Linked DNA regions of Homo sapiens. The protein of the gene in region 3 interacts with the protein of the main gene of each other region in a pairwise test. Each region holds a gene or a part of one and is shown on either strand. Other genes may lie near its edges.

Region 1 (3,652 bases), on a different chromosome or scaffold from region 3:
AGTGGTCTCAAATCTATTCTTGCTACACCAAAATGTAAAAAGAAGTTTCTCTGAGTGGTGGGATTATAGGTGATTATCTTCTTCCTTATATCTTTTTTTCCCCCAAACTTTCTACAATGCATATGTATAATATTTACAGTTTAAAAATGCTTTAAATTTAGTTTGTAGCTTGCCCATGTTTAACCAGTGAGGTCTAAAATGCTAGCTATGTGATACGACTTAAGGCCCATAGGACTCAAAAATTGGAGTCTCCGTTAAAAAATGGTGTTTTCCAGTAATATGCAATGACGTGAAGATGAAAATGCTATTATATAAAGTAGTATATGGCATATAATTCCAATTTGTTAAAAAGTACACACATATATACTTATAAAGATACTAGAGGAAAACATAAAATGCCAACAGGTCAGTTGTTGGTGTAGGGCATGTGGGCGATTTACTTTCCCCTTTTTGTGTCCTTCTGTTTCCACTTATTTATTTATTTATTTTTAATTTTTAATTTTCTTTGAGATGGAGTCTCACTCTGTCACCCAGGCTGGAGTGCAGTGGCATGATCTCAGCTTACTGCAACATCTGCTTCCCGGCTTCAAGTAATTCTCCTGCCTCAGCCTCCCGAGTAGCTGGGATTACAGGTGCGCACCACAACGCCAGGCTAATTTTTGTATTTTTAGTAGAGATGAGGTTTCCTTATGTTGGCCAGGCTGGTCTCAAATTCCTGGCCTCAAGTGATCCACCCGCCTTGGCCTCCCAAAGTGCTGGGATTACAGGCATGAGCCACCACACCTGGCCCTGTTTCCAGTTATTTATAATGAACATTATCAGCATCTTTTATAATTTGAAAAAATTCAAAATTTAGTTTGAGAAGAAAAACATTGCCTCTATCTAGATATGGAATATCGGCTATCTTTTCAACTTGTCTTTCTCTCCCGTGCCTCCCAGCCATCCTTCTATTCCTCCTCCACTTGGTGCCATAGGTTCCTCTCGCCTTCCATTCCCATAGCTGCTCCTCTGTCCGCAGCTCATTTCCTCTTCTCCAGAACATAGCAATCTCTTAACCTAGTTTGTTTTCCTGCCGTCCCTTCTCTCTCTCTCTCTGACCTACTTCTGGAAGCACAAATGCTGGAATAATCCACGTGGATGACACTGCTCCCTTGCTTAACAGCCTGTGGCTCACCGTCCTAATGCTATTACTGGGAGTGTTCAGCCCAACCTTGTTACTGGCTGCCTTTACAGGGCTGGGGAGTGGGATGCAACAGTTACCAAGCCCCACCATGGGCCAGGCTCTGGAGGGCAGGCCCTTTTTTGTTAACTCACCTTTTGTGACAAAACCATGCAGCTTGACCATGCTAGCTTGGAAATAGGGTTCCAAAGTGTGTATTCATGCTACTTACAGACTCAGCTCTGCCGCTGACCTTGAACTTGTTTAATCCCCCTGCTTTTCCTCAGCTGTAACACAGATGTCCTGCCTCCCTCCCAGGGAGAGGCGAGGGCTGGGCACTCTGTGGCAGTTGGTAGCTGGTTTCCTTGCGAGCTGTTGTCCCTAAGGGATGCCCTGTACACCTTTGTTGCCCAGAGGTCTCGAACTGTGCTGACTGCCCCTTTGCTGTAAGAGCTCAGCCCAACTCATGAGCCCCCATTATCTCTCCAGCCCCAGGGTGGGCTCCACATGGCAGACGTTCCTCATCAGAAATGTCCCCAACTGTCACCTCCCCCATAAATGCATCCCTCTCAGATTTGACTCTGTTGAAATGTTCAGACCAGCGCCCCCAATTATCTTTATGTTCAGGGGTTCATTTCTTTGAATCTTGACGGGGCTCACTCTAGAACACCTACCAAATTGACAGGGCCACACTGGCTGCTCCCTTCCCCCTTAACCGCTTTGTCCTCATCTCCAGCAATGGCAACATAACCCCTCGGTCTCCCAAAGAAATCTAGGCCACAGCACCCACATCTCCCTCTCCTCAACTCCACATGCCAAATCCAGCTCCTTCTCTCTTTCCTAAGCATGGTCCAAGTCCATCCCACTACATTGCTTTGTGGGCCTAAAAGGAAGAGGCTGTAGCACAAACCAAGACTTAAGGAGTTTACTTGAGCCAAAGTGAGGACAGATTCCTGGAAGGCCCAGACCCAAGTAACCTTGGACATTATCTCTGTTTGGCCTTTGTTACAAGCAGTTTTTTTAAAAAGGCAAAAAAGAGGGACCGGGAGTGGGCTGATACAAAGTTGTTAGGAATTCTCATTAGTTTACAGAAATAACATTGATTAGCGACTGGTTATACATTGTTACACTACAGGGTGTGGGTTATAGTGTCCAGTGTGGCATTATTAGGTTATTTTTTAGCTACTTGTGCCAATGGCAAGCAGTTTCAAGAGATGAGGCCAGGTGTGGTGGCTCATGTCTGTAATCCCAGCACTTCGGGAGGCCGAGGTGGGTGGATAACTTGAGGTCAGGAGTTTGAGACCAGCCTGGCCAACATGGTGAAACCCTGCCTCTACTAAAAATACAAAAATTAGCCTGGCATGGTGTCTTATGCCTGTAATCCCAACTACTTGGGAGGCTGAGGCAGGAAAATCGCTTAAACCCAGGAGAACGAGGTTGCAGTGAGCCAAGATTGTGCCACTGCACTCCAGCCTGGGAGACAGAGAGATACTGTCCCAAATAATAATAATAATAATAATAATAATAATAATAATAATAATAAAAAGATGAATACACAGCTCAAAGTGGGGACTAGAACGTTATTGCTGTCTCATTTTCATGATTCTCTGGGCCTGATAATTTAAAAGGGCTTGCATTCCTCAGATAAAAGTTACTTTCTCACCTTTAGTCCATGACTTCCTCGCGTCTTGTCTGAACCGTTGCCATAGGCTCCTCTTATGCTTTCTTTGGCATCCCCAGCCTCACCCTGCCCCTACCCATGTCCCTCCTTCCCAAGGCAGCCACTGTTCCCGCTATTGCTGCCACTCAGGGCAGCATGACCTCGCTGGCACACTCCCTGTATTACCGACCTTGAGCTAAGTGCTTTACGCACTGACTCTTATCATTCTCTTGACAACCCCAGAAGGGTAGATTTTAAGATCTCCACTTGACAGATTAGCAAAACCAAGCTTCAGAGAGGTCAGCTAACTAGCCTCAGTGGTGGGCCGGGACCAGGCAGCCAGAGCCTGTCCCTGTAACCACTAGATGCTTGTGCTGCCTCCCTGCAGCGGCCTGGGCCTGTCTGTTGACTTCCTTGTGAACAGGCAGGGACCCTGGGTCTTTGGCTGTCAAATGTTTAATAAGTGAGTGCTTGCCTTGCACGGAACCCACACCACACTTACTCAGGCCCCTGGCTTTGGTTGGGGTCAGGCTCCATCATTTGCTGACCCTTATCTTTAAAAGTTCACCCTGAGGGGAGGAATGTTTTTAAAAGTTTTAAGTTATAGCATCCATTACAAAAACGTTTTCCATTGTGAAACCCCACAGAATTGATATTGTGCTGCAAGGATCAATCCTGCCTGACGCAGGTCTGCCAGCTGCCAAAAAACTGGTTAAACGTGTTAAGTTCAGAAAACCTATTGTCTGATGCTTTCTCACTGATTAAATGAGTTGTATTGACCCAGCATGTTGTAATAGTTGAAAGGTTATAAATTAACTGCATATACTCTATCC
Region 2 (3,652 bases), on a different chromosome or scaffold from region 3:
TTAATTATCAATAGAAATGAGTTTGAAGGTTAGAAAGTAGGCTAGATAAGAGGTTCTCAATAATTTTTCTGCTACAATCCAAAGGAGACAACATGTTTCCCATTAGAAGCAGTGGTTTACGATGGCAATGAATCACAAACGGTGGGAGTTGGAAAGGCAGCACGTGCAAGGTGGGGGAAAGGGGAGTGGGTAAATACCTATCTAATTCCAGGTTGAGTAACACTGGGCAAGGTACCAGAAGGACTTTTTAAACTGTATGATTACCTGGGAATTTTTAAAGAAGGATCCTGGCAAACTTCTTGACAGCATTTCATATGAGAGAGAAGTATTTGCCATGCATTTATCTATGGATGTAGCAGTACTAGCTATTGACAGCAAGTGGAAAGTATAAAACACAAAGGCTAAGATTATACATATGCTCCCCATTACTAACCACCTAATACCAAGCAAATTGTGTTCTGACCTGCCTTTCAGCCTCTTTTACAACCATTTTCCTGGATTTCTAACCCATTCACTTGTTCTCTGTCCCTTCTATAAAAATGCTTATAACAGCTGAATTGACAAGCAATAGAGGAGCAACTCTAATCTGATTCAACAACAACAACAACAAAAAAAAGCATTTAGATTTGGTACAAATACACTTTAAACATTTGCTTCCTTTTTCCTTCTGCATATTAATCATCTCAAATGGCACACAAATTCACTCTCTGACTGCAGGACATAATACTATTTGTAAATATTTTCCCCAGAGATTCTAGGAATTCTGCAAATGTAAATGGCAATGGAATGACTGTTACCATGAAAGTGAAGAGCCTTCTCTGGTATGTTTTACCAGTGGATTGGGCACTCAGTTCAGGCCTTGGGAATATTCCTTTCTGAATTCTAGTATCTGAACAATTGCTTATTGTTCTTGTTATGCACTCGAGAATTAGCTTACCAGTTCTTTCCAAAAATTTCTTTCTAAATTAAATGTGGGTACACATTTGAAAACTGCACACTGTGTATGAATAGTACACATTTATTTTACATTTTTAACATCATGTACAAGCTGTGGGAACATCTGGTGTTTTGCAAATTTGGGCAAATCCAGCTGCATTTCCTCTTCCAAATATGTTCTCTGACATTTGCAGGTTGTGTTTCATTTTGATTTTTATACTCTCTCTCTCTCTATCTATATAGGGCAGCATTGTGTGCTTTCAAACATGCATTTTTTCCAACTTTATACTTCTCCTTTCTGAACTAAAAATTAAAAGCTTGCTGATTAATATGAGAAAAAATGTTGTGGTTAGACTAAAGATGTAAATTTTAAATGTATCTGTCTCACCTCTCTATAATTTACTTGAATCAGTAGAAAATCGCCTCTTGAGAACAGTTTACAATGAAGAAATATATATGCTTGCATTATACCATCTGAGCTAAGAGAAAGCAATACAGTAATTAGCAGACTGAATCTTTACTGAGTCAGGTGCACCTCTAACCCAACAAAATACACATATGTGCACCAACAACTGTGCCACATATTTTCAGGGGTTGGCGGACATCTTGAAAGAAGTATAAGGTTAAGAAACTAAAGCGATGAGAATGTGAATAATTTAATGTGAATAATTTAAAATCACCTAACTTAAAGCATGGTAAATAACAGCTAAAACGCAAATGGACTTTACATCCTACTCTTATACTTAATCATAAATAAAAGATTGCTGTTGCCAAGTCTAAAACTCTCTGTCCCCTCTACACACACGCTCACGATTAGCAGACAGCCCCAGATGATCATGCTGGCTTCCCTTTCTTCCCTCACATAAAATATTTAAAACAACCTCCAGCCTGAGGGTGGAGTGGAAAACTGCCTGGGAGCAAAGTCACCCTCACCATCCTGGCTGACCTGCTGGCCTGTTAGCCCCGAAGGTTAGTTCACAAGTCTCAGATCTGAGCTGGTTCCTTGGATTTTAAACTCCCAACTTGGATCAGTTCCTTCCCATATACAACCAGGTTCCTGCCTGGACTTTCTCATTTAGATTCAGCCCTGCTCTGGACAAATCCCAGGACATGCTGCTCCTACTGGGCTAAAAATGCTCAGGGCTCTCTGGTTCCACTGCTCTCCCACAGTTTCTCAAATGGTTCCAGGTCCCCTGACTCTAGTTGCTTGTTCTATGACTTCTTAGAGATAGCACAGTTCAATGGTTAAGAGAAAAGGCCAGGGGATAAATCTCCATGAGTTCAAATTGAGTTCTCTATTACCAACTTAACTTTGCTAAGCCTCAGTTTGCTCATCTATAAAACTAGGGTAATAATATTATCTCCCTCACAGATTACTCAGCCACAACCTCTGTCTCAAGGAAGCAGAAGTCTAAGAGAGATACCTGAAGCTAAACCACACAGCTGATAAGTGATAGGTTCAGAGTTCAAAGCCAGGTTTATATGTCTCCAAACACATTCTTTTCAAATACATTATGCTCTTGTCTTTTAAAATCACCCTTATTGGCCGGGTGCAGTGGCTCACATCTGTAATCCCAGCACTTTGGGAGGCTGAGGTGGGTGGATCACGACGTCAGGAGATCGAGACCATCCTGGCTAACATGGTGAAACCTCATCTCTACTAAAAATACAAAAAAAAAAAAATTAGCCAGGCATGGTGGCGGGCTCCTGTAGTCCCAGCTACTCAGCCTCCTAGCAGGAGAATGGCATGAACCCAGGAGGCAGAGCTTGCAGTGAGCCAAGATCATGCCACTGCACTCCAGCCTGGGGGACAGAGCGAGACTCCGTCTCAAAAAAAAAAAATCATCCTTATTTTTCTCTTTAAAAACAAAAAACATGATTACTCCTTTTTATAGCAGTGGTTGTAAAATTTAAAACCAAGATATATTACTAGGGTTGCAATAATAAGAAAATAAAGAAGTACTTGGTTATCCACAACTACTAATCTAGTGATTTGGTTAAAACTAGCATTCTTCACAGAAGTTGGAACCTCTGCCTGTGCCAACCTCCAAATGAATGATTTGCAATTCTTGGCCTTTACAGTCTATTTCCAGGATAATACTAACTAAAATAACAATCTTTGCGATAGGGTACTGGGCAGACCTGGTGACTTGCACGGAAGGAGAAGGCAACAGCAAAGATGGCAAGAGAGAAGATTAAACAGGAGCTCCAAAGGCAACAGAGTTCAGCAGTTGAGTCCAAATGCTAAGATTTTCCAGGAGAGAGAATGCCCAGAGTCCAAGTAGTGAAAAATGTCCATTTGTTTAGCAGCGGTGTCTAGGTGAGGGGGCAGGAAAGGGGAGGAGGAGAACCCACATTATCTATTCTGAGTGAGGCTACACATTGCTGAGGGATTGAGTGCAGTCAAAGGAGGCCAAACTGATGGAGGAGACATCAGAAAATGCAATATGCACTCTCTTCAATAATTCTATCACCAAGATATATACTGCATGATATGAATAACATCTTTTTTATTTTTTTATGTTATTATTTTGAGACAGAGTCTCACTCTGTCACCCAGGCTGGAGTGCAGTGGCATGATCTCAGCTCACTCCAACCTCCGTTTCGTAGGTTCAAGCAATTCTCCTGCCTCAGCCTCCCGAGTAGCTGGGACTACAGGTGCATACCACCACACCCAGGTAATTTTTTTTTTTTTGGTTTTTTTTTTTCTTCTAGT
Region 3 (3,652 bases):
AGTCCCAGCTATTCCGGAGGCTGAGATGGGAGAATCGCTTGAATCTGGGAGGCGGAGCTTGCAGTGAGCTGAGATCGCGCCACTGCACTCCAGCCTGGGACAGAGAGCGAGACTCCATCTCAAAAATAAATAAATAAATAAATAAATGACTAAAGTGATAAATTTTATATTATGTGTATTTTACCACAATTAAAAATTTTTAAAGTCTTCCATTTAAACATGCACAACCTCTTCTATGAGTCACTATTACCAGCTCACTAAATTCTAGGCCAAGTGCAGTGGCTCACGCCTGTAATCCCAGCAGTTTGGGAGGCTGAGGCAGGAAGATCTTATGAGCCCAGGAGTTCAAGACCGGCCTGGACAATATAGTGAGACCCTGTCACTACAAAAAATAAACAAAAAAAATTATGTGGGCATGGTGGCACACGCCTGTGGTCCCAGTGACTCAGGTGGCTGAGGTGGGAGGATTGCCTGAGCACAGGAGTTTGAGGCTGCAGTGAGCTGTGATCGCGTCACTGCACTCCAGCCTGGGCAACAGAGCAAGACTCTATCTCTAAAAATAAATAAATAAGGTCCAGCACGGTGGCTGACGCCTGTAATCCCAGCACTTTAGGAGGCCGAGGCAGGCAGATCACGAGGTCAGGAGTTTGAGACCAGCCTGGCCAACATGGTGAAATCCTGTCTCTACTAAAAATACAAAAATTAGCCAGGCGTGGTAGCACGCGCCTGTTAACCCAGTTCCTTGGGAGGCTGAGGTAGGAGAATTGCTTGAACCTGGGAGGGGAGGGTTGCAGTGAGCTGAGATCGCACCACTGCACTCCAGCCTGGGCGACAGAGCGAGGCTCTGTCTCGAAAAAAATATAAATAAATAAATGAATAAATAAATTCTAAAATCCTTAACCCAGCTTTCGAAGCCTTTACAGTCAGATCACAACCTTTTCAAGCTCACTTCCCTTCTCCTATCTGCACCCACCATAGGCATCAACCACACACTTACCCTAGTTCCCATTTCCAGAAACTTCCCCTCTTTTAAACATGGTTAGAATCATGTAAAATAAGGGTAAACCCACCAGGTCTTGTCAGCATGACCAATGACTTTCTTCTGTGTCCACCCTCCAGTCTTCACTCGCTCATCCTTCAAGGCCCATCTCAAATGCCACCTCCCCCAGGAAGCCCACTTGACTCTTGACATCTGGCACTTTGTACCATGTGTCGGCTGCATCTGTCTCCCAAATTTGGCAACTGACAGCCATTCAGAGCGGACTGTGTCACGTCCCTCCTGAGTGAGTGAGTGCCTCTATCAGTGTCTTTCTCATAGAAATTACTAGAGAAATTAGGAACAGAAACAATGTGGGCCGGGTGCAGTGACTCATGCCTGTAATCCCAGCACCTTGGGAGGCTGAGGCGGATCACTTGAGGTCAGGAGTTCGAGACCAGCCTGAACAATATTGTGAAACCCTGTCTCTACTAAAAATACAAAAATTAGCTGGGCCCTGTGGCTCATGCCTGTAATCCCAGCACCTTGGGAGGCTGAGGCAAGAGGATCACTTAAGGCCAAGAGTTCAAGACCAGCCTGGGCAACATAGTGAGACCCCCATCTCTACCAAAAAAAAGAAAAAGAAAGAGAAAAATTAGCTGGATGTAGTGGTACACACCTGTAGTCCTAACTATTTGAGAGGCTAAGGTAGGAGGATCACTTGGGCCAAGGAGGTTGAGGCTACAGTGGGCTGTGGTCACACCACTCCACTCTAGCCTGGTCAACAGAGCAAGACCCTGCGTCTTAAAAAAAAAAAAACAAAATAAAATTTAAAAAGAACCCGGCTCACCATGTGCTCATCATGTATTCTTCCTGGGATTCACCAGGACTCTCTTAGAGCCTAAAAAGTGAGAAGCTATTTGCCATTTCATTTGATGGCTGAACTGGCTTTGCCTTTTTGTTTCTTTCTTCTTGTGCAATGACACCTGTCTTCTCATCTATTAAGCAAGGCTAGTTACTAGCTGCCCAGGATTGTTGGAACTATGTGTAAAGTAAGAGTAAACTGGGACCGAGAGTCTACTGGGTCCCCAGGAGCAACAAGAACAACCTTTTCCAGGCTGGATGCAGTGGCTCATGCCTGTAATCCCAGCACTGAGGGAGGCCAAGGTGGGTGGATCACTTGAGGCCAGGAGTTCAAGACCAGCCTGGGCAACATGGCAAAACCCCGTCTCTATTAAAAATACAAAAACTAGCCAGGCATGGTGGTGCACGCCTGTAGTCCCAGCTACTTGGGTGGCTGAGGCATGAGAATTGCTTGAACCCAGGAGGCAGAGGTTGCAGTGAGATGAGATCGTGCCACTGCACTCCAGACTGGGCGACAGAGTGAGACTCTGTCTAAAAAAAAAAAAAAGAGAGAAAGAGAATAAGCTTTTGTATACAGTCTTCATGGAATCTACTCTCCCTACTCTCTGCTCTTTCCTGGTGACTTCTTGGTTTGTGGCTGCACTCTGGATGGATGAAGTTGCAAGACACACTGAGGTGGTGTGCACCTGTAATCCCAACTACTTGGGAGGCTGAGGCAGGAGAATTGCTTAAGCCCAGGAGTTCGAGGCCTGCCTGGGCACCATGGCAAGACCCCATCTCAAAAAGAAAAAAAGAGATAGAATGGGCTTCCACCTTGGCAGGGAGGACATGTCAATGTTCTCAGACAAGAGTTCCCTAGATATGGGAATAAAATGTTCCTGTCATGACAAGTTTTTTCCCAACACAGCCAGACTCAACTCCTCCAGAAGTTAAATCTACTCCACCCCTTGAAAGCACAAACTACCACCCAGTGCTTGTTGCATAGTACAACGCTTGAGATACAGAAGGCTCTCAATGAATGCTCTCTAAATGAATACATGGGCCGGGCGCGGTGGCTCACACCTGTAATCCCAGCACTTTGGGAGGCTGAGGCGGGTGGATCACCTGAGGTCAGGAGTTTGAGACCAGCCTGAACAACAATATAGAGAAACCCTGTCTCTACTAAAAATGTAAACATTAGGTGGGTGTGGTGGTGTGTGCCTGTAGTCCCAGCTACTTGGGAGGCTGAGGCGGGAGAAGAGCTTGAACTCGGGAGGTGGAGGTTGCAGTGAGCCGAGATTGCACCACTTCACGCCAGCCTGGGCGACAGAGTGAGACCCCGTCTCAAAATAAAATAAAATAAAATAAAATAAAATAAATGAATACATGCATGTAGGAACAAATGAAAACAGCACATTACTGTCTCTCAGGCACTAACACTGAATCCTGGGGCTACAAAGTCATTGCCCACACCAGCCACTGGGCTCATCAGAAACCCACACATACCAGGCCAGGCGTGGTGGCTCACGCCTGTAATCCCAGCATTTTGGGAGGCTGAGGCAGGCAGATCACCTGAGGTCAGGAGTTCGAGACCAACCTGACCAACATGGAGAACCCTCGTCTCTACTAAAAATACAAAATTAGCTGGATGTGGTGGTGCATGCCCGTAATCCCAGCTACTCGGGAGGTTGAGGCAGGAGAATCACTTGAACCCAGGAGGCAGAGGTTGCGGTGAGCCGAGATCGCGCCACTGACCTCCAGCCTGGGCAACAAGAGCGAAACTCCATCTCAAAAAAAAAAAGAAAGAAAGAAAGAAATCCACACATACCATAT

Evidence for each region.
Region 1: the proteins of OLFM2 (region 3) and GNB5 interact in a two-hybrid assay, tested with the Homo sapiens proteins (one large-scale study listed by IntAct).
Region 2: the proteins of OLFM2 (region 3) and NBAS interact in a two-hybrid assay, tested with the Homo sapiens proteins (one large-scale study listed by IntAct).

Annotation. Positions count from the first base shown.
Region 1 is NC_000015.10:52,184,804-52,188,455, reverse strand, and holds part of GNB5 (guanine nucleotide-binding protein subunit beta-5), read left to right. Parts: intron 1-3,652. UniProt on the Homo sapiens protein: Enhances GTPase-activating protein (GAP) activity of regulator of G protein signaling (RGS) proteins, such as RGS7 and RGS9, hence involved in the termination of the signaling initiated by the G protein coupled receptors (GPCRs) by accelerating the GTP hydrolysis on the G-alpha subunits, thereby promoting their inactivation.
Region 2 is NC_000002.12:15,271,314-15,274,965, forward strand, and holds part of NBAS (NBAS subunit of NRZ tethering complex), read right to left. Parts: intron 1-3,652. UniProt on the Homo sapiens protein: Involved in Golgi-to-endoplasmic reticulum (ER) retrograde transport; the function is proposed to depend on its association in the NRZ complex which is believed to play a role in SNARE assembly at the ER. Required for normal embryonic development.
Region 3 is NC_000019.10:9,926,431-9,930,082, forward strand, and holds part of OLFM2 (noelin-2 isoform 2 precursor), read right to left. Parts: intron 1-3,652. UniProt on the Homo sapiens protein: Involved in transforming growth factor beta (TGF-beta)-induced smooth muscle differentiation.